Regions from separate parts of the Homo sapiens genome. Here all the other regions are linked to region 1. Evidence: fine-mapped expression QTL. A gene starts in region 1. Each other region holds a variant in brackets. All regions are shown on one strand. Distances are from middle to middle. Region 1 holds the start of FAM110B (family with sequence similarity 110 member B). Region 2 has its middle 120 kb from the start of LINC03133. Region 3 has its middle 60 kb from the start of UBXN2B. Region 4 overlaps FAM110B (family with sequence similarity 110 member B). Region 5 overlaps FAM110B (family with sequence similarity 110 member B).

The links. PIP is the estimated chance that this variant, and not a neighbour inherited with it, causes the effect.
Region 2: its variant is fine-mapped to the expression of FAM110B in whole blood (TOPMed, PIP above 0.99).
Region 3: its variant is fine-mapped to the expression of FAM110B in whole blood (INTERVAL, PIP 0.95).
Region 4: its variant is fine-mapped to the expression of FAM110B in whole blood (TOPMed, PIP 0.98).
Region 5: its variant is fine-mapped to the expression of FAM110B in whole blood (TOPMed, PIP 0.93).

Annotation. Positions count from the first base shown.
Region 1 is chr8:57,991,931-57,997,037 of GRCh38, forward strand. FAM110B (family with sequence similarity 110 member B) reads left to right here and starts at 2,593. Exons shown (of 4, transcript NM_001377989.1): 1 at 2,593-2,876. RefSeq lists silencers at 2,920-2,969, 2,990-3,039 and an enhancer at 3,044-3,544.
Region 2 is chr8:58,153,061-58,158,147 of GRCh38, forward strand. No RefSeq gene overlaps it. Among named protein-coding and RNA genes, the nearest start is that of LINC03133, 120 kb to the right of the region's middle. RefSeq lists a silencer at 1,656-1,755. The variant C/T (reference allele first, on the strand shown) is at 2,918.
Region 3 is chr8:58,348,628-58,353,734 of GRCh38, forward strand. No RefSeq gene overlaps it. Among named protein-coding and RNA genes, the nearest start is that of UBXN2B, 60 kb to the right of the region's middle. The variant A/C (reference allele first, on the strand shown) is at 2,398.
Region 4 is chr8:58,125,670-58,130,776 of GRCh38, forward strand. The region is part of intron 3 of FAM110B (family with sequence similarity 110 member B); the gene reads left to right. Among named protein-coding and RNA genes, the nearest start is that of FAM110B, 130 kb to the left of the region's middle. The variant C/T (reference allele first, on the strand shown) is at 2,795.
Region 5 is chr8:58,014,516-58,019,622 of GRCh38, forward strand. The region is part of intron 1 of FAM110B (family with sequence similarity 110 member B); the gene reads left to right. Among named protein-coding and RNA genes, the nearest start is that of FAM110B, 23 kb to the left of the region's middle. RefSeq lists an enhancer at 1-105. The variant G/A (reference allele first, on the strand shown) is at 2,614.

The sequences.
Region 1 (5,107 bases):
TGCTAGGAATAGTCCCACTGTCCAGAGTCACCTGTGAATAATGGTTAAATTACATTCTGATTCGTGTATGGATGCTTGTTTGGGTACTAGTCAAATATTGTTACATACTTTTAGAGACAGAAACCTCTGTGAAACAAAAGAATTCCAAGCCTAGGATAATGGCCCACTTCTGAAGAATAAACAACACAATAAAATTCTAGTACAAACAACTAATTTCAACATTCTCTGAAAATCTGTAGCAGTCCTTAACATTTTCAGTCCCCAAAACAAGAAAACTATGTCCTAAATCAGCAAACATTAGGGATTATGAGAGCAGTTTTATTGGCATAATTGATAAGACAATATTTACTGAAATATTCCAGCATAGATGTTTTACTGTGTTCTCTCTGTCTCTTTAACCACATCTTTTATTGGTTTTTGGTTTTGGTGATGACAATTTGGGGCTATTAAATCTACACTGGGCAATAGTAAAACCCTAAATGAGAACCTTAATAATAAGAGTTAGGGGTCCTACTAAGTGAACTCCTTGGCATATACTTTATTATCAAGAAGTAGTTTAGGCAATAGAAAAGCTAAAACTTGGTCGGCGCAGTGGCTCACGTCTGTAATCCCAGAACTTTGGGCGCCTGAGGCAGGTGGATCACCTGAGGTCACGAGTTCCAGGCTAGCCTGGCCAACATGGCAAAATCCCGTCTCTACTAAAAATACAAAAATTAGCTGGGCGTGGTGGCCCGTGCCTATAATCTTAGCTACTCGGGAGGCTGAGGCAGGAGAATTGCTGAACCCAGGAGGTGGAGGTTGCAGTGAGTGGAGATCATGCCACTGCACTCCAGCCTGGGTGACAGAGTGAGACTCTGTCATCAAAAAAAAAAAAAAAAAAAAAAAGAAAGAAAGCTAAAACTCATTGGTTACATTCCTGATTTTCAAAGCATCGATCATAGGGGAATCTTTTATGATTTTATAAGTGAGTCTTCTGGAAAGAAACTTAACTCAAAATGGCATAAGCAAGAAAGACAATTTATTGGTGCATTACTTCAGAAGTTCAGGATTTGACTGGTTTTAGAGGTGACTGTCTTCGGATGGCCATTGATGTCATCAGGGCACTTTTCTGTCTCCATTGCTCAGTTTGGCTTTTTTTCTGGTTTTGTTTTATTCTCCAGTAAGTTGACTCCAGCTGCTGCACGCATATATGATATGGTCCCAGGAGCTGCCCTGTCAGTCAGGGAAAGGACCCTCCTCCTTTGTTCTCAGACGATATTCTAATTGGCTGGCCTGGGTCATATCCCTCACAATGTCAGGAAGCTCTGTGGGCTAGTCACACCCAATGGGAGGGGGAAATTCCTAAAAGGAAGGGATTGGGGCAAAGAAGTGGGGAAAAAAAGTATACTTGAGAGGGAGAGAAGTTGGTTCCATTTGCTATGGGAATGATGAAAAATAGTTTATTTCTATTGTTATATGACTTTTGGAGTTAATGGAGACCACAACGTAATCTGTGATAACAAGGAATGTATTAGTATGCCAAAGGAAAGTTCCATTTAAATCCCAGTATCATGTCACTTTCTTAAAATGGTAATCTTTAAATAGAAAAAAAATATATTATTATAAAGTCTGAGTTTTATTTAGTTGGCAACTTCTTAACTATTATGAAACAATAGATTCATTGAATTGAAGCACAATTCAAATATAAACGATCTTTCTGAGAAAATGAGATGAGTGAAATCGTATTGTTAATGTACCAGAGATTAAAAAGAAATCCTTGCTCAATATTTTCTAGAAGAAACAATTATTTTGTGAGTCCATATCCCATTCAAATTCATTTTGATAAAGATGGATTTTATCTTTTAGACTTCCCAATAGCAAAATTAAATTACAATGTGTTTAGTCTTCCTAAAACAAATCCTCTCCTGAAACAACCAAGTTATTAAGCAAATCTAAGCAGAAAGTATTCTCAAATACTATATTAGGCGATTAATAATGACGCACCCCAAAGCATTTCATTTTAAAACATCAGCTGGCCCACATTTCAGAGGTAGTACATCATGCTTGATATTTTTCGTTATTTACTATTTTCTCCAAACATTTTTTTGAAGTCTTAAAAATGCCTTCAGAAATTAAGCTAGGACGCTCCATCTGAGTATATGAAAGTTAGTAAACAGAAAATGTCAAGCACCAAGACGTTTGGATGGCTGGACTACCAGGTGGGGTTATCTCATTCAGGGCACAGGCTCTACGTCTCCAGTGCTGAGCGATCTGCACTGGGGTGGCAGTCCGAGATCCAGCGGTATCACCGGGTGGGAGCAGGGTGGGGGTGCTTGCGTGCGGACATAGGTGGGAGTGGGGGATAGGGAGGAAATGGAGGCGCCGACCGAGTGGAATGGGGGGTGGGTCAGGGATGGGGTGGGATGGGCATCAGTAGCGGGGTGGAGATGTTGAGAGAGAGGCAGGGCTTGGAGTGGAGGTGCGAGAAGGGTGGGGACCCGGAAGGTGGGGTGGGGGCGGGATGGAGGCGGGGCGGGGTGTACGAGGGGCGTGTACACTGGCTCAGGGACACGCGCTCTCGGCCACAGCAACTGGCTCCAAGTTCCCTCCCTCACTCTCCGGCGAAGCCTGCCTGAGCCCTCCCACTCGGTGCAGACCGAACCATCGCGGCCGCCGCCAGCCGGGCCCTTCGCGGCCGCGCGTCCTGGGCCCGTTCCGCCAGCCCCGTCTGCTCTCTACCCGCGGCCCCGCGGCGGCGACCGTGAACACTCGGCGGCCCCTACAGCCCGCTCTCGGCCCTTCGTCCCTCGCGGGCCCCGACTCTCCCTCCTTGCAGTCCCCCGGAGCCTGGCTCCCGGCTCGGGCCGCACCGCCAGGGACTGGGGTGAGCGGCCCAGGTAAGACTGGGCCGTGGGGGCCGGGAGAGAGACTGCTGGGCGGGGGTTGGGATTCGGGTTCAGTGGTCGCGCCGCGCCCCGACTGCGGACAATGCGGGAGCTGCGCGCGGCCAGGCGGCGCGGAGCTAAGCCGGCTCTGCGCCTGCAGCTTCCCCGCCCGGCCCGGGTCTCCGTTGAGCCCGGCCTCACTGGCCCAGGCGGACCCCGTCCGGCTTTCTGGGCTGCCGGGGGAGGCGCAGCGCCGCTGCCTGCCCCGCGCCCCCTCTGCGCTCGGCTTGGCTGCACGTCCCGGGCTCGGCTAGGAGGCTGGGCACGGGGCCGGGGCTGGAGCCGGGGTTGGAGCCAGGGCGGGGGGAAGCTGGCCGCGCTGCGGAGCGGAGGTGGGCTCCGAAAGCGCGCCGCCGGTTGCTGCTGGAGGAGTGGGACTACGAAGGATGGGGACTCCGCTCGGCCACCGCTCCTGAATGGTCTCTAATCTCGGTGTTAAATACTTTATGAGAGTATCAATACCACCTAATCCTTTGCTGAGAATTACTGCTAGAAATGTAGATTCTGAGGTTCCGAAAGTTTGTTTTTGGTTACCCCCTCCAGCTCCTCCCGTGGCCTCAATTGTCTCTATTTTCTTTGAAAGCATACAGATTTGAAATAGAATTAAATTCTCCTTGGCTCACTCGTGTCTCCATCACCCAGCGGAGCTCATAACTTGGCAACAAAGCCCATACAGGCTGTGGGAAGCCGCGATGCCTGCTGCCCAGCCTGGTGCCCTCCTATTGTTTAGAGCTGGAGCTGTACAGTGTAAATGGCAGTGACAGGTCTCCCTTAAGCTGGCTCGTGGGGAAGGAAGGGAGATAACTTTGCAGTGTGCTTAAATTACTCTGGAAAGTGGAAAGAAAACACCTGGTGCTCAGCTTTTTAACCCTTTCAAGTTGTTATTCAGATTTATTGACACACACACACAGAAAAGTGCAGGCTTTCTTTCCTGCCTAAAAAATAGGCAACCTCTGTGTTCTTCCTCACAGCCAACTTATGTCCTCTGCAAAATCTGGCACACATCTGTGACAACATTGCACTTCTGGCGTAACTGGTCTATTTCTCAAAAGGGAATATGATAGTAGAATAAGCATTTTTGCAGTATGGATAGTAGGACTTCCATTTTCTTCGTTTCCTTTGTTGGTGAAGAAGGTATTTATTATTTTCCCCCCAGTTTACACGTAGTGATTTCTGGGAAGATACTTGTATTAATTTCTTGTACTCATTTTTGTGACATCACAACCCCTGGTCATTCAGGTAAGCTATTTATTAAGCATAGTTATTCTAGAATAAAGGTGAGTTAATGGTAAACTAGAATCCTTCACTGATAACATCCCATTGGTTTACCCTACGGTATTTAATCTGTAGTATTACTATAGATTGTACATGTAAAGTCACTAATTGAACAGAGAGGTGGTTGGTGCCTTGTTAGCCTGACATAAAGTGCTTAGAACAGTGCCTTGCATATAGTTCTAGGTGTCAGCTAATATTACTTTTAATTTTTCTTATCAAGCTATGTGTTATTTTCTGTTTGGAAAATGGTCGTTTTGATTTTTAAAATTCTGATCTGTTAGGTCATGATCTATTTTAAGTCTGTGGTTTTAATTTTAGATCAGGGCTGAGGTTGGGTTGTTATTATGCCTATGACTGACAGGCTTCTCTGCGTATCCTTATGCATGGTGAGGGTTGATTTAATTCATCTTATATATTGGATCTCTAAGGGCAAGACATCAGTCTTGAACCCAGTCATGCCCTGGTGCCTTTCATAAGGAGACCTGGTTGTCTTTAAGAGCCTAATTGTTTAAAGAGAGGCCTCCACATTAGGGAAGACCTGGGCTCTGAACCCCATTCCTTACCTCCCCTGCACTCCCTTGTTCTCTAGGTTTAGAATCCCACTTCCAATTCCCAATGGAAAGAACCGTTGGTACAGCAGAGTTAAGTAACTCTCACAGTGTTAAAAGATGATAAAAGATAAATATGTCTACTGTATATACAACAACCAGAGCATTTAATTCTTTTTCATGCTTTAAAATATTTTAGAGCAGGATTTATAGCCTAACTAGCTAAGATAAGAAAACTCACTTATTTAAAACTACTTATTTGCCATGTGTTAGTAACCAAAGATTGTGTTTCCTATTTAGATATTTTAAATGATTGTCAGGAGTTTACTCTTATTTCATGTTCTCCTTTCCCCTTTAACT
Region 2 (5,087 bases), 160 kb after region 1:
GAATGTTCTTTTCATGTGACATTAATGAAACAACTATTAGCATGTCTTAGATGGACACTATGCTAAGCACTGTGTCACATTATCTCACTTTATTCTCACAAGAACTTTAGAAGTAAATTAAAATCCATCTTACTGATGAGGAAGCTGAGGATTAAGTTTCCTCTCCAAGGCACACATCCAGTAAATGGAAAAAGCAAAACACAAACCCAGGTTCATAAAACATATCCTAAGACTCATTCTGTGCATATGAAAATGAACTTTTAATATCTAGGATGGCAGGAACCACTTTTGCTTCTTTGCAGTAAGTTGCATCACATAACATTTCTCAGAACTTAAAACACTGTTGAACATACTGGTTTGTGATTGTTTCATAGAGTGAGTGACTCAAAACTGTTGAGCGTATGTGATCACATCAGGACCCAAGTTTCTGGGTTCTTCTGAGAGGGACATTAGCAATAAACTGTCCCTCTCCATGTTACTGTACGAAGGAGAAAACGGAGATCTAGATGAGTGAGGTGGTGGACACAGCCAGGGCTGTAGGGCAAGGGAACTGGCAGAGGGGCTGGAACAGGGAGACAGCTGCTCAGACCCCATGAAGGAGGCTGGATCAGGGAACAGTGGAGCCTCACAAGGCTAACAATTCCATCGTGCCAAGTAGGAGCAACCTGGGTAACATAAACTCTGTTTTTTTGTTTCGTTTTGTTTTGTGACAGCGTCTCGCTCTGTCACCCAGGCTGGAGTGCAGTGGCGCGATCTCAGCTCACTGCAAGCTCTGCCTCCCCAGTTCACGCCATTCTCCTGCCTCAGCCTCCCGAGTAGCTGGGACTACAGGCACCCGCCACCATGCCCAGCTAATTTTTTTGTATTTTTAGTAGAGACAGGGTTTCACCGTGTTAGCCAGGATGGTCTCAACCTCCTGACCTTGTGATCTGCCCACCTTGGCCTCCCAAAGTGCTGGGATTACAGGCGTGAGCCACTGCACCCAGCCAACTCTGTTATTTTTATGCAGTTTCCCTTGACTCAAAAACTATGTATCAGATATTTAAAGAAACCTTGATTTAGAGTTTTTCTGTTAATATACATTAACTTTTTAAATTAATCCTAGCAAACATAAAATACTTAATAAAGATGGAGAAATTTATCTAAGGAAGTTTTTGTCAATTTTGGAAATGAGTACCACTGTCTTAATATCATTTTATTAACTTCACCATCCATAGATGCCCAGTTATCCTCAATATCTCAAGAACCATCTTTCCAGGCCTGGTTCCTCTGCCTCCTTGTCTGCTGAGGTGGACATTGCCACTGGTTCTGATATCCCCTTCTCTCTCCTTCCAAGATCCTAGGAGAATGGCATTTCTACACCTCATAGCATTAGGTGTGGCCAATGAGCCACCAACAGAAGCGACATGTTACAGTTGGGAGGCAGCATAAAGAGCCAGCCCACGATTGTCTTCTCTTCTCTTCCTCCTGACATGGCAACCAGCAGAGTCCCATAGGGCGGAGCTTCCGTTAGGATCCTGAATGAGGACAGTGTGGAACAAAGGCCTCCATCCTAACCCAGAAGGACTATGTCAACCCAGGGGATAAACTTTATCCTTCTAAGCCACTGATAGTGTGGGGCTCTTTTTTTACTGTGGTACAGTCTATCCTGTTCTGGCTACAGCCTCTGTTGAAGTGCACCCAATCTGCCACACAGGAGAGACCGCCATGCTGTCCCATCAGGAGGGGGTGGTAGGAAACAGAGACCAGGAATCCACCTTTTCACAAGTGTTCCCCAGATGATTCATGTGCAGTCTTTGCTTTCACAGATGATTTTCAGTGTTGCTAACTGGAAATCAGGTGAGAATATTGTAGTTGCCAGATACTTAAAAATACTTTGATACATTTTAGAACCACAATTACAAGCTCTAGCTTTTTGGAGGCTTATTTTCAGAAATTTAAAAAACGCATTCAGTTGTACCTGCCCACTGTGACAAACTCGGCAGATTGAAATCAGGTTGCAACCTCTGTTGATTTCCAATATCCCAATGCATTCTGGCCACTGTGATCTGTCATGAGGACCACCACCATAGCCTCTGAGTGGGTGTCCACCCTGCTCTTGCTTCCCTCAGTGTATTCCCAGAAAGCTACCAAAAGTGATCTTTAAAAAGCAGAAATCACATGGTGTCATTCTGTGGTTTCCATTGCAGTTATGACACAATTCTTTTAAAATGCCAAACTTCAGCCTGTAAGGCCCTTCAGTAGTCCCTCCCGACCAGGCCCCTTGCCCTCAGCCCCCATTCTCTCCACTCTCACCCTGCTCTGGGCTCCTTCTCTCTCTATGCTTGTGGAACGTACCAGCTCTTCTCACCCCAGTCCCCAGGGGCCAAGATCTTGCCATTTGGCCTTAGTAGACTATTTTTCCCTTGATATTTGATCTTCCTGTTACTGACTTGTCGTCTTAGATTTTGCTTCAGCTGACATCTCAGAGGGCCCTTCCTGCCACCCTATGTAAAGTAGATGCTGTGTTAATCTCCATCCCTTCGTATTTCCTTCCTGGTTCTTTGTAATCTGAAGTTACCATATTCATTAAGTGACTCTCTTGGTCACCTTTTACCTCCTTTACCCAGTTCAGTGTCTGGCACAGGGGTGTGAAGAGTAGGTACCTTTGGAATGAATGGAAGAATCCAAACATGACTCCTCAACTAAATCCCACCTCGTGGCTGTGGAGCCCCCACCAGCTCATGCCCTTCTGCCTCCCCTGTCTCTGTTGCTGATACCACCGTTCTACAAGAGGCAACTGGGCTTGACATTGAAGGGTTTTCTTCCTACCTGTTCTTGGAAAATAAACCAGACAGCATGTTTGAGGTAATGGGAGTCCAGAATATGAAATTCTTTTTACAAAGAGATTTTACAAGCAAGTATTTTTCACTCCTTG[C/T]GCAGTTGCCTTCAAAGGAAGGGGAAGTCCTGCTCACTTTGCACCATAGCCCAGAGCCAGGGAAGCTCTGCTGGGGGTGTGGGGCGTGGGAAATAATAATCTAAGACTATTGATATGAGCTGAATCTTGATACCCTCATATTTGTCCCAAAAGACAATGAGTAGCATACTCCTTTTCTCAGCCAAAATACAAAAACTTACCCTTTATGCGAAAATATATCCTTGGGGTAGTGCTGCTGGGTATTAACCATTGAAGCCCTCCTGGCAGACAGTTTTCCAGGCAAATTGGCCTCAGAAACACTTCCCATTTTAGCCTTTCAATGTGTGCACACTGACCTCTCCACCACGGGTTCACCATCCTGTTCTCTGGAAATTCTGCTCACTGGGGCAGAGGGAAACAAGCCATGCGTGAATGCAATTGCTCCCTCAACTGAATGAAACTGTGGTGGCTCGTAATTGATAACATATGGAAGTTCAACTGGGAAAAAGGGAAAATGGGAGAGAGAATTCTCATTACACCACCTCCTAGAATGCTTGGCTTAGCATGTTTTGCCTTCTTAAGTGTAAATAAGTTTGAAGCTTTCGAGGATTTCTAGGCATACATAATCTTTTCCAGTCCTTTCCTCCTTTTTATAATAGATGGAGAACAGCAGCCAGGTGAGGTATTTATGTGCCTCACAAACCCAGCTCCCAGACAGGTTCTGTGAATGTTTCAGTCACATCACTTTCCTCTATTGAGTTCTAGGCCATTTTAAGGACTTGAGCTACTGAGCATTTTATTTTGGTGGAAAACATTGAGACATTCATTTATTAACTTCATGGGCATGTGGTTTTTCACTAACAGCTTTCCCTGTGTCCCCCCAGTGAGCTGACAGCTGCACATGGTTTAGGAATGTGTGGCTAAGGCCTGTGGCTGCCGGAAAATCACTCCACTTGGTTTGGACAAAGGCTTGGTGTGTTCTATCCATGTTTCAGATTTCTCAGAGCATCTCGGTGTTGAAGCATCTGATCTAAAATGAACTCACTTCCCTGAAGACCCCTTGCTCTGAGTTTATGGACTTACTACCATCTGCTGAGAATTCTTTTGATTAAAAAAAAAAATCTATGAATGGAGATCTGGATAGCGTTTTGGGTTCCCAAATGTTTTCAAGTTTAATTCCCCACCTGATACCTTTTAACAGCAGTTTAATGGTTGAGATGGAGTTTTGTGCATTCTGCCGTGTATATACGCACATGTTGGATTTCTTAAGGAATGTATTCCAGACAAATGTGCTGAGGGTCAAATTATACTCAGTTATTTCCAAAACTTAAATCCTGGTGATTTTGGGGTCTGTTCAGGGAGATATGAAATGCTATGCAGACAAGCAGATTGTAGGGCTGATTTCCAGCTCAAAGGGAAGTGTAAAGGATCTTCTTTCCTTGAGCATGTATTTGTTCTTAACACTATTTTCCTTTTGATTGGATTGCTTTTTCACACATTCAGGTTTAGAGGGAAAGAAAAAAGAAAAGGAAAGAAAAGAGAAAAGAAAGAAAAGAAAAGAATAGCAAGTGTCTTGCAGGTGAGAAGGTGACACAGCTGCTGTCAAGGCTGGTTCTGCTCAACATCCATCTTTCTGCCCACCTGCAGGTGCCCACTAGCAATCACTTCCCTGAAGATGGGCACTCTTCTCACCTCTGTATCGCCAGGCCCTAGTTAACTGTGTGGCAAGTATTGGGTGTAGGTGCTTAATGTTTGCTGAATGGATGTGGAGTAGAGAGAACTAGGAGCACTTTGGGGTTCTTAATCTGTGGGGAGAGACCAGATAGGCTTAGTGGGGTGGCTTCCCATCAGTTATGTCCTGTCCCTTCATAGGCTCCCCACACATGTGTGCTGTGGTTCTCCCTCTTTACCTTCTCCATCTCACCTCTCTTCCCTGAGTTGCTGTGATGAACCAAGCATCTCTAGGCCCAAGGGATACAGCAATGAGCCCCCACAGAATAGATGCTCACAGCCATAAGGAGCCCGGCTTCTTGACAGAGAGTAGATCCAATAGCTAAATAGGTCAGACTTATAAAATGTTAGATGATGGCATGCACTTAGGGAAAGAAAAATAAAACAGGGAGGAGAGAGAGCGAGTGGCCTGCTCAAGGAATCATTTGAGAAAGACTAAAGGAAGTGAGGGAGGTGCTCT
Region 3 (5,107 bases), 360 kb after region 1:
TGTTCAAAATAAAAATGAGGGCTGGGAAATCACAAAGCATCTCTGAACAACTGTAGGAAAGGGGTCTAGGTGAGCCATGGGATGCAGGCACAGGCCACAGCGTGGGGAAAGGTCTGGTGCTACTGTGGCTTCCCCACAATGTGATGCAAGGGTCTGGGAAGAATGCTGCCTGTGTGCCAGGAATCAGAAGGAGGCACTGGTCTGAAGATCCGGGTCCTGGAGGAAAGCTTCATTCTGTCCCAGGAAGGCTGGTGCCAGGCACTGATGTTATGTCTCAGGGCCCACCCAAGTCCAGTTCTCCCAATGGAGTAGAAGAGAATGATCTCTTCCTACTGAGGAGTATCAATGAAAAGAACACTTGGATTTTGATGTCTCTCCTGACCAGCCTAGCTCAAGTTGTCTCCTCCATTCATTCTCCTACTCCTCTTTTTAATTATGTTTAAAGCCTGCATTGCCAGCTGAAAACATGGATTTGTTTTTCAGGTTTCTTACTCATTTCCTTGTGGGTGATGTTTACTTGTTTCGAAGATGTCCTAGCTATTTATGAGCTATGGGCTGAATATTTGTGTCGCCCCCAAATTCACCGGTTGAGATTCTAACCCCTAATGTGATGGTATTAGGAAGTAGGGCCTTGGAAGGTGAGTAGATCCTGAAAGTGGACCTCCCATGAATGAAATTAGTGTCCTAATAAAAGGGAGCCCCAGAGAGCTCTCTCACCCTCTTTCCACCATATGATGATATGATGAGAAGATAGCCATCTTCCTGACTAGGAAAATTTAAGTATAATTTTCCTTTTCTTTGAAAACCTAATGACCACCATATTGAATTAGCAGTCACCTAAGCCCCTATGTAAATCTCACATATGCTGATATCTAGCAAAGTCATGATCAGTGTTTCCGCAGAGTTTAAAACCTCCATGAGGAATGATACATTTAATAGCTATTTCTCTTTTTTTAATTATCCAAGTTATTTATTTATTTATTTATTTTTTTGAGACGGAGTTTCGCTCTGTCGCCCAGGCTGGAGTGCAGTGGCGCGATCTCGACTCACTGCAAGCCCCGCCTCCCGGGTTCACGCCATTCTCCTGCCTCAGCCTCCTGTGTAGCTGGGACTACAGGCGCGCGCCACCTTGCCCGGCTAATTTTTGTATTTTTAGTAGAGACGGGGTTTCACCGTGTCAGCCAGGATGGTCTCGATCTCCTGACCTCGTGATCCGCCCGTCTCGGCCTCCCAAAGTGCTGGGATTACAGGCGTGAGCCACCGCGCCCGGCCAAGTTATTTTTATTTTAATGATCCAAGGTATTTTTATTGTGGTATTTATTCATAACACAAAATTTGTCATTGTAGCCATTTTTACATATATGGTTTAGTGGTAAGAAGTGCCTTCATATTGTGCTACTGCCACCACCATCCATCTTCAGAACTTTTTCATCTTCCTCATCTGAAGCTCTGTGCCCATTAAATGATAACTCCCCTCCCTCCAGACCCTGGAAACTACCATTCTACATTATATTATTATTATGTCTCTATAATTTTTACTACTCTAGGTACCTCCTATAAGGGGAATCATATAGTATTTACCTTTTTGTGACTGGCTTATTTCACTGAGTATGTCCTCAAGGTTCATCCATGTTGTAGCATGTGTCAGAATGTCCTTCCTTTCCTAAAGACTAAGATTTCATTGTCCATATATACATTTTGCTTATTCATTCCCCCAGCATTGAATATTTGGGATACTTCCAATAGTTTATTCTTATCATACAGGCATTTATTCCACTCAACAAAAGTACACCGAGATCCTAACTCCATTGCCCCGAACACCTGGTTCGCCTGCCAGCTTCTGTTCCCCACAGTGTGTCCTCAACCCCTTTATTGACTTTGCAGGCCCTCAGCACATCTATTTTCTTTCCCAGACATGATTTTTCACCACAGCTGTGGTTATTATGGCAAAGTCCTTCTCATGCTTAAGAATCCAATTCAAATACCAGCTTCTTTTTCAAAATCTCTCTCTCTTCCCAAGGTTCCTCTGATATTCCCAAAGCATTTTTCGCACCAAAACAGCCCCAGTCATGATGAATTGTAAGTATTTTAATTGTGCATATTTTTCACCTCTGTATTATATGCTCACACCAAATAAATCTTTCAACTCCCAGGGTTTAGTCCAGTAGCTGGTACATAATTTGTACTCAGTGAATATTTTTTGAATGAATTAATACAAATATGAATTATCCTTTGTTTTTTTCACTGTTTTCCAAAATTGAAAAGTAAGTTGGAAATAGTATACTGTATGAATAATTTTCAAACTCTGTCTTCCAAAACAGGTTGGAGGGTTTTCTCCTTTGCATTAAAATATATAGCCATCAGTTAACATGATAAGCTGATATCAAGTAAGAATTC[A/C]ATTATTTAACAAATGAAAAATTTGAAAGAGACATAAAAGCAGGAAAAGCAATGACAGGCTGGCATAGAAACACTGTCTTCTCACAGTGCTGCCTGCTTTCTTCTGTCGAGTTTAGGGGACCCACGTACAAGGCTTCGATTCAGATAACCGTAATGATTAGATCTCTATGCAAATCTGCCCCATCCTGAGAATGTGTGACTTATTTTGCTATCTTCCAACTCCCAATGGCGTCAAACAGTAACAGCGTTCTGGACAGATGGAGTTGACGTGATAACACATAGGGGCAGCATATCAAGAAACACTTCTGACAAGTGGTAAGTGAATACTGCATCTTCAACTGTATAAAAATAAATGCTACAATTTATTTCATGGAGGAGGCATGGTAGCAACATATAATGGAGATGAAGTAAACTTTACTGTCTGTTGGCCACCTTAGATATTCTTTCAAAGTTTCTATTGCTGTTTGAAAATATTGCAAATGTTGTCACAATTCCCCATAACTAGCAAGAATCCAGCATTAGAAAAGAAGTGTTTAAAATACAAATAAGATATGCTGACATAAATGTGTGGAAAAAACACCCATGTGGCCACATTTGCACAGTCAATAATTTTCTTGTTTCATTTTCCTAAGTGACCAAATTTACCCAGATATGACCGGGTAAGATTGATAAATAAACTATGTTTATTTATCCTAACCTGCAAATGTGTTTTAAATATATACATTAATATCTACTAGTACTAAAAGAAAGAATAGGCCAAATCAGACATTATTTTTTTCTGCTGAGCCCTGGAGTTACATGACTGCCACTAATTTCAGGGTGGGGAGCAAAGGAGGTTTAAGGGTTCCAACTCTTCAAACCTCCCAAAACAGAAGGTATGGTTTTAGCTGTTTTACACAGTGGTCATCTGACGAAGAGATTTCATGATTTCCAAAACTCAGAAAATCCCTATGCTAAAAATATAGAAACCTGAAGACAGCAGAATCTCATGGAAAAGAGCCAGGGCTCAAATTACTAGCGATCTAGTTCAGGCTCTGCTACTAACTGGACCTGTCACACTGGACAAACCACAGGAACTCTCTGGGCCTCAATTTCCTCATCTCAAAACTAATCCAAGAGATAAGAATCTATATAGTCCACTTCAGCCTAAAGATTCTGAAATCCAAATAAAATTTTGAAAAAACATGAATATTGTCTTGTAGATATGTAAATGCAACCTTTATTTGAGAAGTTTTTAAAGGAATTTTACTTCATAATAGCAATGGCCTTCCATGTAATCAATGTAATGTGTGAGAGTCATCTGTCTTTACGTTGTGTTTCGTTTGTGTTTAGTCTCAATCCTTTCCTTGGAATTCTGTTCCTGTTGGTTTGGGTTGCCTGATTAGAAACTGTGAATGCCTGAACCAGACCTCCTATTCAATTTGCTTAACTTATTAATTATTTAAATTATATGGTTCAATTAAACTGAAATGGAGATCCCTATTACCCCAAAGTAATTAAGAGGATACAAGCTCTAATCCATAATTCAAAAATTATAAAGATATGACTGCATGAGGGATGCTTGCCCAAGAGCTCAAGGCTGTTCCATATGTCAGAGCAAATGTTTCTTTTTGTTGCCAATAATATCTTTTATATACTGCAAAGTAATAATATATCCACTATCTTTGGAATATCATATGAGTGGGATAAGCAAACATACCAATACATACCAGATTTTCAGTCACATCACCTCATTTAATTTTCACAATGGTGCCATCAGATGCGTGTGTATGCACATGTGTTGTCTGTGTGTGTGTAATCAGGAAATTCTCAAAGGGATTAATTATGCTACCCAAGGTTACACCAAGTAGGGGTTAGCGATCTGGAATTAAACACAAGTTTTGAAATCCCATTAATTTTCCTATCCATTGCATTAATTCTCTTGACAATAGAATTTTTCATCTAGAGTAGTTGCCAAATCTTAAGCCTCTGCAAAGTGCAAGGGCACTGTGGGAGAAACAAGAACTCTTACCTCTGAAGCTCACACTTGTCTACTTGACAGCCAAAGCACAGAGAAAGTACCATGTGTTCGGCTGCTCTTACATTGCTATAGAGGAATACCTGAGGCTGGGTAATTTATAAAGAAAAAAGGTTTAATTGGCTCGCGGTTCTGCAGGCTGTATAAGCATGGTGCTGGCATCTGCTTAGCTTCTGGGGAGGCCTCAGGGAGCTTTTACTCATGACAGAGGGTGAAGCAGGAGCAGGCACATCACAGGGTGAGAACAGGAACGAGAGTGCAAGGGGGAAGATGCCAATCACTTTTAAACAACCAGATGTCACAAGAACTCACTCACTATCGTGAGAACAGAACAAAGCCATGAGGGATCTGCCCCCATGAACAAAACACCTTTCACCAGCCCGCTCTCCAACACTGGGGGTGACATCTCAACATGAGATTTGGTCGGGGGACACCCAAACTATATCACACCACATGACAAAAGCAGCATGTATTGAAATGGTCCAATGAGCAATATGCCCTGAAGGTAGTGTAAGAACTCAGGGAAAAGGAAAATTATAGGCTGCATGGAGAACATCTCCCTACAGGAGATAGGACCTGAGCAGAGCTTTGAAGGAAGGTTTTGGTACATGGAGACGTCAAGGAAGGCATTCCAGGCAGGGCTGGATAGTGCAAGCAAAAGCTGAGAAGCAAGAATGAAAGGGCAACACACAG
Region 4 (5,107 bases), 130 kb after region 1:
CAAATGTGAGAGCCCATTTCTCCATATAAAATGTCTTATGACCTGAGAAACATGTCAATTTACATTGTAATTTTAACCTCTTGTTATTTTTTAAAATCATGATTGTTCCTTTATTTGGGAAGCAGATTATGGATCTCTGTCTCTTCCCCCAGCTGTTTTCTTTAAACATTTTACTTTGAAATTACAGATTCACAAGAAGTTGCAAAGATGGTAGAAGTTTCATGTGTCACCCGGTACCCTCCCATGGCTATATGTCTTATATAATTATAGTACAGTATCAAACCAGGAAGTTGAGCTTGTATGTATAGTTCATTTTATCACTTGCATAGATTTGTGTAACCACCACCACAATCAAGATCCTATTCTGTACCACAGAGATCCTGTGCTTTACAAGCACCCTCATGACTCCTCATCCTTATCTCCTGAAAACCACTAAATCTGTTCTCCATCTCTCTAATTTTGAGAATGTTATATACATACAGTATGTGACTGTGTGACATTGGCTTTTTTTCATGCAGCTGTTCCTCAGATACATCCCAGTCGTTGCATGCCTCAATAGTTCGTTCCTTTTCATTGCTGAGTATCAGCCATTGTATGGATATACCATAGTTTAGTTAACCATTTGCCCATTCAGAGACATTTTGGTTGCTTCTAGTTTGGAGCTATTACAAGTAAAGCTGCTCTGAACAACTGTGTATAGTTTTTGTGTGGATATAGTTTTCATTTCTCTGGAATAAATGCCCAGGAGTGCACTTGCTGGGTTCTATGGTAAGTGTATGTTTAGTTTTTCAAGAAACTGCCCAGCTATTTACCAGGGTGTCTCTACACTATTACATTCCTACTATCAAGGCATATAGTGATAGAGTTTCTCTGCATTCTTGCCAGCATTTATTGGGTGGTGTGTCTCTCTCTCTTTTTTTTTAATCTTACTTGTTCTAACAAGTGTGTAGTGATAGCTCATTCATGAATAGTGATAGATTTTAATGTCTTATAATGTTGACATCTTTTCATATGTCTATTTGCCCTTTTTATATGCCCTTTGTTGAAATGTCTTTTGCCCATTTTCCAATTGGATTGTTTGGTTTTTTTAAAGTTGAGTTCTGAGAACTCTTTGTATGTTCTAGATATGAGCCCTTTGTCAGATGTATATCATGCAGATATTTTCCCCAGTCTGTTGCCTATCTTTTCATCCTTTTAACAGAGCCCTTCACAGATAAAAAGTTTTTGTAATTCTAATCAGTCAAATTTATCAGTTTTCTTTCATGGATCACTCTTTTGATGTCATATCAAAGAACCCTTCATCAAGCCACAGATCCTAAAGATTTTCTTCTTTGTTGTTTCCTAATAATAACATTTTTTTATTTTACAGTTGACTCTATGATTTTGAGTTAATTTTTGTATAAGGTATGAGATAAAAGGTATGAGGTCAACGTTTATATTTTTGCCTGTGGATATCCAGTTGCTCCAGCACCATTTGTTGAAAAGTCCAGTCCTTTTTCTTTGAATTGCTTTTGCACCTTTGTCAAAAATCAGTTGGCTTAACTTGTGTGGGGCTCTTTCTGGGTTATATGTTGTGCTCCACTGATCTGTGCATCTGTCCTTCCATCATACCACAATCTTGATTACTGTAGCTAGATAATGTCTTGAAATTGAGTACACTGATTCCTCATTCTTTATTCTTTTATCTCAGAACTGTTTTAGCTATTATACTCCTTTGCCTTTCCATATAAGTTTTAGCATAATCTTGCATAAGCTCGCAAATAACTGATGGGAGGTTTTGCTTGACCTTCTCCCTCATTTTCATCTGGCCCACTTTTCTTACACCTGCTTCTTCTTTATTGTCTATCTTGTCTTATATGATTGTCTACATAGAAAATCTCAAATAATCTACACAAAAATGTAAATAAAAAACCCTAGAACCAAAAGGTGAGTTCAGCAAGTTCGCAGAATATAAGATCAACAGACAAAAGTCAATTGTATTTCTCAATAGTGGTGAGTATGTGGAAACTCATGTTAAAAATACTATACCATTTACATTGGCTCAAAAAAAATGTAATACTTAAAAATAAATCTAATAAAACACATCTAGAACTTATATGCTGAAACCTACAAAACACTGATGAAAAAAATCAAAAGTCTAAATAAATGGAGAGGAAGATCCCTATTTATGGACAGGAAGGCTCAACCTAGTGAAGATGTCAGATTTCCTCAAAGTAAACAGGTTTAGCGCAGTGGTTCTCAAATTCCATAAGGGGTTTTGGAGATTCTCTTTTAATCCATTTCATTTTTACAAGAACATCTAGAATTTGCATGTGTTTGGATGGATTGACCAGGGAAGTGATTTTTCTCACAATACACAAGTACTGTCAGTATGTCCAATTAAAAATAACCGTTTTACTATAAAAATATAGTTCACACCTTCTGTATGACAGACAGGCCCTGTGCTCAGTGTCTTCCAGCCTTCACGCCATATCACCTTCACTATCACCCTGTGAGGAAGGTGCTGTTATTATCCCATTTAACACATGGGAAAAGGGAATCACACAAATGGAATTCTCTTGTCCAGAGTCACAGAGCTAAAAGACAGGGAAGCAGGATTCAGACTAGACCAACATGAGTCCTGCATCTGCTCTGCGTTCAGTGTTCCACGGCCTCCTAGGGGTCTTAGGGCCTTCTTTGGTTTCATCAGGATTCTCACATCAAGTGCTCTCAGAGAATTCTACTTTTCGAAAAATCACTGTAATCCTTACATCACTTCCCTCACCAGCACCCTGTGAGGCCCTGTTTTGAGTTT[C/T]CCCAGTCTACTCTAGGATTTCAGTTTCAGTTAGAGAGCTGAACCCAAGGATTATTTAAATTGTCCAGCCATAGGGAAACATTTGATAGATACTTTTCAGGAAAAAAAAAATTAACTGTGTTTTGAGAATGTTGATTAAAAGAGCCCTTCTCATCTGTCAGAGAAGGATGGCTGTATAAGTATTTGTCTTTTGCCCTGCAAGTGGGGGAAATGGATTTGGGGATGACACATCACTTTTCTGAGGTATCAGAGGAAGTAGGTCACATTTTGCTGTTGATCATAATGTTTGAAAAAGCTGGCATTGAAAAATGAGAAATTGCATTTTGAGTAGTTCTTTGTCCAAAGACTAGAAATATTTTCTGAGACAAACAATAAGTTTTATATTTTTTTTTCCATCATCTCCCTAGGATAACTTTTCTTTTGTGGTCAGTTTTAGCCTGCTAAAAGGAATCATTGGCTCTTCATAGACGTATTGGCTGCATTTATTGAAATGTCTTTTCAAGTATCCTTGTAAACACAGGAAAGCTTCACCTCCTGAGTTCTAGAAACAACGCTGGGAGTGATCCAGAATGCCTTAGTAAATAAAATAGATGAAGGTTTAAAAGACTCCGTCTATCTTTAGAGCTATTAAACAAAAGAGAAACATTCAACATCTTCCCTCTAATAGTCAATAAGAAAGAAGAATGTCACAAAAGAGTTCGATCCCCTCTAGGCTAATGGAAGGGAAACCACCTGAGTCAGAGTTGGTCTGGAGAGGCAAGCATTACACCCAGTGGTCTCTGATGTCATCTCAGCTCTGAGCCAGTGGCCTCAGGGGTACTGTGTCCCAACTGGAGAATTAACAAGGTGATTACTGAACTGTAATTGCTGGCTAAATGTCTTCCAAAGACTATCATAATCTCAGAAATAAGCTGACACATTACATGCAAATATAACATGACCTTTTAGCACAGTTTATTGCAGAAACATCCACCTCTCGATAACATTAGAAGCTGCCTCCGTTCTCCAGTCAGCCACCCCCTTCGGGGCCCCTGTTGGTAGTATTTTAGCCCAATAAATGGCTCCTGTCCAGTGGTTCCCTTGGCCTGGAGGAAAGGAAGGCGCTGCTGGAGGCACTGTACACATTCTGTACCTTCTCATACATGCTGTATGAGAAGTATGTGAGGCTCGAGGCTCAGGACCATAAAGGATGTGAGGGATCAACCCTGGCACAGATTGCGGCTACTAGAACAGGGAGGAACAAAAGGCTGACAGCTTACCAAGGCAGAGCCACACCCATGCAGGGTCTCCAGTGCCCACGGCTGATGAGATGCCCCGCATCCTGCTCCTTCTTTCTTCCGCTCTTACTTTTTTCATCCAGTCTGCTTAAACCTCCCTCTTCTTTACTGTCTTTTTTTTTCTTAGATTTAATCTACTTATCAAAAACATTCTTGTCACTTTCTTAATATATTGCAATGATTTTTTTAATGCTTAAATTCTTATTACAGTTTATCTTTAAAATTCTGCCTTCATGTTCTGTCTTCATGTTCCTTTCTTCTTGCTTTGAAAGTAGAAGTTTCAAAGAAACATAGAACCTATTAGAAAGGAACTTGACATTCACCTGCCTCCTCCTTACACCCATTATAGGAATCCCCTCTAAAATTTCTTGAACAGATGTTAAGTCTACCTCTGCATGAAGCATTCCTAGGATAAAAAGCTAGCACTTCTTTAAAAACCAATGAATTCTAGTTTTGAACAGTTTGAATTGTTCAAAAATTCTTCCTTCTGTTAATCTGCAAATTGCCTTTATAGTCTATGATGTTCATCTGATAATGTTTTCTCCAGTTCGTTAAAAAGAACAGTAGCTAACATATATTGCCGCCTCTACGATCATGAGTCCTGGTATCAGCCCCATGGCACAGCTAAGGAACCTAAAGTTAGAGAGACGATTCTTCAAGGTCATGCAGTGGTAAATGGGGGAGGGGACTCACATGTTCTGACCCTAGGACCTAGAACCTGCGGTCACACCAGCCTTTCCTCCTTATAGGCACAGTTTACATTTTCCCTTAGAATCCAACTATAAAATCTCCTCCATCTCTACCCTGAATTGTGCAATCTGTTCTGTGGAATGTATGTGAATGCCTGAGCATGCCACAAAAACAGGGAATTGTGTCTCTTCCATTCATGTCAATACCTCCAGTGCTAGTAACAGTGCCCAGCGTGAGTATAAATTGAATGATTGAATCCCTTCCTTAGCTATTATATTACTCTATGAATTCTTAGCTGTTTTCTCCTAGGATCTGATTCCCTGTTGATAAACTTTAAGTTCACAGA
Region 5 (5,107 bases), 23 kb after region 1:
GGATGTCTTGCAGGGAAACTGCTGCAAAGGGCAGAAAGGGTTGTAAAAGTTCTCCCAGAGAAGATGACCTTTGATGCAACAGGCTTTAACCTTCTCATTGAGAATCTTCAGTGCAGTTCCTAATTTTTAAAATAAAACTTCTGTTTAATAAGTCACATACATGTATGTTTTCCCTAACTGCTTTGCATTTTTCTTTAATCTGTGTAGATTTTCATATTTAAAATGCAAGTTCAATTATGATTTGGTTTTGGGGTTATCGTTTATTAAACATTTTGGACATCTGGAAGCAAACCTATTATCTTTATTTTTAATTTTAAAAGAAAATGTTTTTGTACCATATTCTGCTATAAATAAAATATTTATAAGTGTAGTGATTATTAGAAATTTTTACTAACATCAAGACTTTAGGCCATGAAAATGTACTTATTTCCTTGGATTTAAAAATATTTTTACAAAATAACTTTCTTTTCTTAGGAATTTTAATTGTTTTAGTTGATGAGTTGATGTTCTTCTTTATGCTCAGACAGCTTGGGCAGTTTTTGTTTAAGATAACGTTAAAGCCGGGTGCGATGGCTCACGCCTGTAATCCCAGCACTTTGGGAGGCCAAGGCAGGTGGATCACTTGAGGTCAGAAGTTCGAGACCAGCCTGACCAACCTGGTGAAACCCTGTCTCTACTAAAAATACAAAAAATTAGCTGGGCATGGTGTCATATGCCTGTTATCGCAGCTACTCGGGAGGCTGAAGCAGGGCAATCGCTTGAACCCTGGAGGTGGAGGTTGCAGTGAGCCAAGATTGCGCCACTGCACTCCAGCCTGGACGACAGAGCAAAACTCTGTCTCAAAAAAAAAAGACATTAAATTTACACTCTCAGAAAAGGTGACATTAAATTTATACTCTCAGAACATTTGTTTTTCAACAAAAATGGATACAGATACTATTGATTAATTTTGGAGGAATACAGTGAAGATAATTTCTAAATTTAGTCTTAGGTCCTTAAGTAAAAGTGCCCTCAGTTAACTAAAACGTGTTCTTGAAAAGGCATGAGGGGCCGGGCATGGTGACTCATGCCTGTAATCTCAGCACTTTGAGAGGCCTAGGCAGGCAGATCACTTGAGGTCAGGAGTTCGAGACCAGCCTGGCTAACATGATGAAACCCCGTCTCTACTAAAAATAAAAAATTAGCCAGGTGTGGTGGTGTGTGCCTGTAATCTCAGCTACTCAGGAGGCTGAGGCAGGACAATCGCTTGAATCCAGGAGGTGGAGGTTGCAGTGAGCTGAGATTGTGCCACTGCACTCCAGCCTGGGTGACAGAGCAAGACTTTGTCTCAAAAAAAAAAAAAAAAGAAAAAGAAAAAAGGCATGAGGATTTCAAGTGAAATCCAGTTAAATGAGTATTACATAATTAAAATAGGTCCTATTTGGAAATAAATTTAACTCTTGGAATATTTAACTATTCCTAACTGTATCATTCAACTCATTCTATTTATATGGTTTAATTATATATTTGACCCATTTAATCTTAATACCTCACGAAAACAAAGCTATGTAGAGTATCTTTTAATCAGTTTTAGCATCTGAGAAATCTGATGTCTCTTTGGTGGATTTGGCCAGAGGGAACTGGAACACATGCTCTCATTGCCACTTTGATGGTATTTTTTAAATCTATGAAATAAATGCTTTTAGAAAATGATTTTACTGGGCAAAGAGAGCCAGGTGTGGAAGTAAAATTTGTATTATCTATTGTTGCATAACAAATGACGCCAAAACTTAGTGGCTCAAATAATACAGATTTTCTCTCTTCACATTCTGTGGGGATTCGGAGTTTCTTAGCAGGGAGCTTCTGGCTTGGGCCTCCCGGGAGGTTATTCTCAGATGTGGCTGGGGTTGCAGTCATATTGAGGCTGCACAGAGCCTGGAGGCTCCAGCACCCAATGTGGCTAAGCTCTGGCTCAGCTCTTTGACTGGAGAGTTGATGCTACCTGCTGGTGGGAGCGGGGAGCTCAGTTCCTCCCCAGCTTAAGCCTATCCTGGCGCTGCTTGGTTGCAGGTCAAATTTTTGGCCAGCCAAGAACCTGAAGGAAGATCTTTCATAATGTCTCAGTTTGGCTAGCTACCCAACTCCACGTATTCATCCTGTTTGCCTCGTGGTGTTGCCTCATGCCAGGAAGTGCTCCAGTCTGTGTTTGTCATGTTCTGTGCCCTCCAGGAGCTCATGATGCACCAGAGAAAAGGCTAAGCCCAGGGCCCAAGAGAAGCTGGTGCAATGAGCAGCATGGGCACAGCCTGAATGAGGGAGGGAGTGTGTCCAGGAAAAGCTTTCCTGAAGAAGGTCAGATTTGAGCTGAATCAGATGTGCCTGCCTTCTAAGAGAAGGTAGATGTTAGCCAGGTGAAGGAGTAGGCTGGAAGCAGGGAGTAGGGGGAGAAATTTAGGAAGGAAATGCTAGGCAGATAGAACAGACTTAGTGAACAGACTGAGGCTCGAAACAGCACAGCAAGTCTGGAGAACTTTAGCAGTTTACTTTTTCAGTGCCTAGGGAAATGTTTGAGTTAGGGAGAGATGCCAGGACTGGAGATGCTAGTGTGGTAGGTAAGGGAGTTAGTGCTTCTCA[G/A]TCATGCAGCTTGGATGCATGTGTTTCTTGCCCATCATGCATGTTTTCTTACTCATTCCTCAACAAAGATTTGAGCATTTACAAGGCTTAAGGCATTATGCCGCTTCATTGAACCCTGAAAGGTAGATAAGTCTGCATTTTATAGATAAGAGACTGGCTGAGGGATATTAATTGACTTGCCCAAGGTGATGTGGCCAGTGAGTAGCAGGGCTACATCTGTGTGAAAACCTGAAAGTCGAGTTAAGATGCGAACCAGTTCTTCATAAGAATCACTGGAGGCACATATTTTATATAAAGATTTCAGGCCTCCACCCTAGACTTACTGATGTCTAGGGGAAGGGCCTCAGGTACTCTTTACTATTGGTGAAGTGGAGAGCTTAGCTTTGCTCTCAACTTGAACTTGACATCAGTGAGAGTGGAGGAATTGTGGAAGAGGGTGTGCAGTTTCTTTTCTGTATGTGCTGAGGGGCATGAAGTCCAAAAGATGTTTTTGTTTGGAAAATTCTGAGTGACATTACAGCCTCAATCTCTTAGAAGATGTTTTCAAAGTCTCTAAAAAATAAATTGTGAAGAAAGATATCCACAAGCTTCAGTATCTTGGAATCAACACACAATTGGATTTTTGATATCTGGTTTGATTTGATATTTCATGTGAATGAGTAGCTGAAAGGTGCTAATGAGGTATTTAATACTGGTACTAGAATCAAAAGCTGAGAAATACCTGAACACAAAGACCAGACTGGTAATAATGTCATGAGATTCCCCAGGACTAGAGAAAAACATGAAGAATAAAATTACTAAGAATTATTCAAAAGAGTGTTTTGTTGTTAAGGATTGCTCTGTATGTCATAATGTACTGTTTTAAGCTCTTCACGTGTATTGGGTCATTTTATCCCCAAAACCAAAAATGTTATTGTTTTTGTATTTCACAGGGCTATAGAATGTGAAAAAATGTGTAATTTAGTTAATTGTTGTTTTTAAATGCTCAAACAAATGTATTTAATTTTTTAATATCCTTATAATTTTTTCTGCCTGTTCTATCAATTATTGAGTGCAGAGTGCTAAAAATCTTCACCTGTGATTGTAGATTTATCTGTTTCTGTCTTTAGTTATATAAACTTTTATTTCATTTAGTTGAAGTTCTATAATTAGGTACATGCACATTTAGAACTCTCAGGTCTTTATAATAATTGACTCTTTGATCATTATGTAATGCCTTTTCCTTGTCTTTGGAAATACTTCTTGTCTTAAAGTTTACTTTGTCTGATATTGAAATAGCCACACCAGCTTTCTCATGATTATAGAGTTTGCATGGTATATATATGTATATATTTTTTCCATTCCTTTATTTTTAGTATACCTCATCTTTATCCTTTAAATGTGTCTCTTATAGTGTACAGTTAGATAGTGCTTTTTTTATTCAGTCTTGACAAACTTTCCCTTTTAACTGAGGGGTTTAGTCCATTTACATTGATTGTAATTTACAATGATATTAGACATTGATACGGTTGATTTTTAAGTCTATTACCCTATTTTTTGTATTCTATTTGTTTGATCTGTTTGTTCCTTCTTTCTTGCCTCACTTTGGCTTAATCTAGTAATTTTTCGCATTTTATTTTGTCTCCTTTGCATTTTAGCCAAGGTTTGGTTTTACTTTTTACTGGTTGCTCTAGGGATTACAATAGATAGATAGATAGATAGATAGATAGATAGATAGATAGATAGATAGAGAATCACCATCTACATTGAATGAATATTTTACCACTTCACATTAAATGTAAGAATCTTACAACTGTATATTTTCCTTTACGCTCCTCCTGTCCTTTGTGCTGTTCTCTATTTTAGTTGTATGTTTGTTGTACACCTCACAATACATTATTTTTTACTTTTCAGCCAAATATCTTTTTGTAAATGTAAAAAAGAAAAGGCCAGGCGCGGTGGCTCACGCCTGTAATCCCAGCACTTTGGGAGGCCAAGGTGGGCAGATCACAAGGTCAAGAGATCGAGACCATCCTGGCCAACGTGGTGAAACCCCATCTACACTAAAAAAAATATAAACATTAGCTGGGTGTGGTGGCACATGCCTGTAGTTCCAGCTACTCGGGAGGCTGAGACAGGAGAATCTCTTGAACCCGGGAGGTGGAGGTTGCAGTGAGCCAAGATCACACCACTGCACTCCAGCCTGGCGACAGAGTGAGACTCTGTCTCAAAAAAAAAAAAAAAAAAAAAAAAGGAAAGAAAGAAAGAAAGAAAAGAAAAGAAAGAAAAAAGAAAAAATATTTATGTATAAATCCACACATTTGCCATTTCTTGTGTGCTTCATTTCTTCCTGAGATCTAAATTTTTTCCATTTGGTATTATTTCCCTTCAGCCTGAAGAACTTTCTCTATTGTTTATTATAGGGTAGGTCTGCTGGTGATTAACTTTCTTAGCTTTCATTTAGCCGAAAACTTCTTGAATTTGCCTTCATTTTGTTGCTGAGTATGTAGTATTC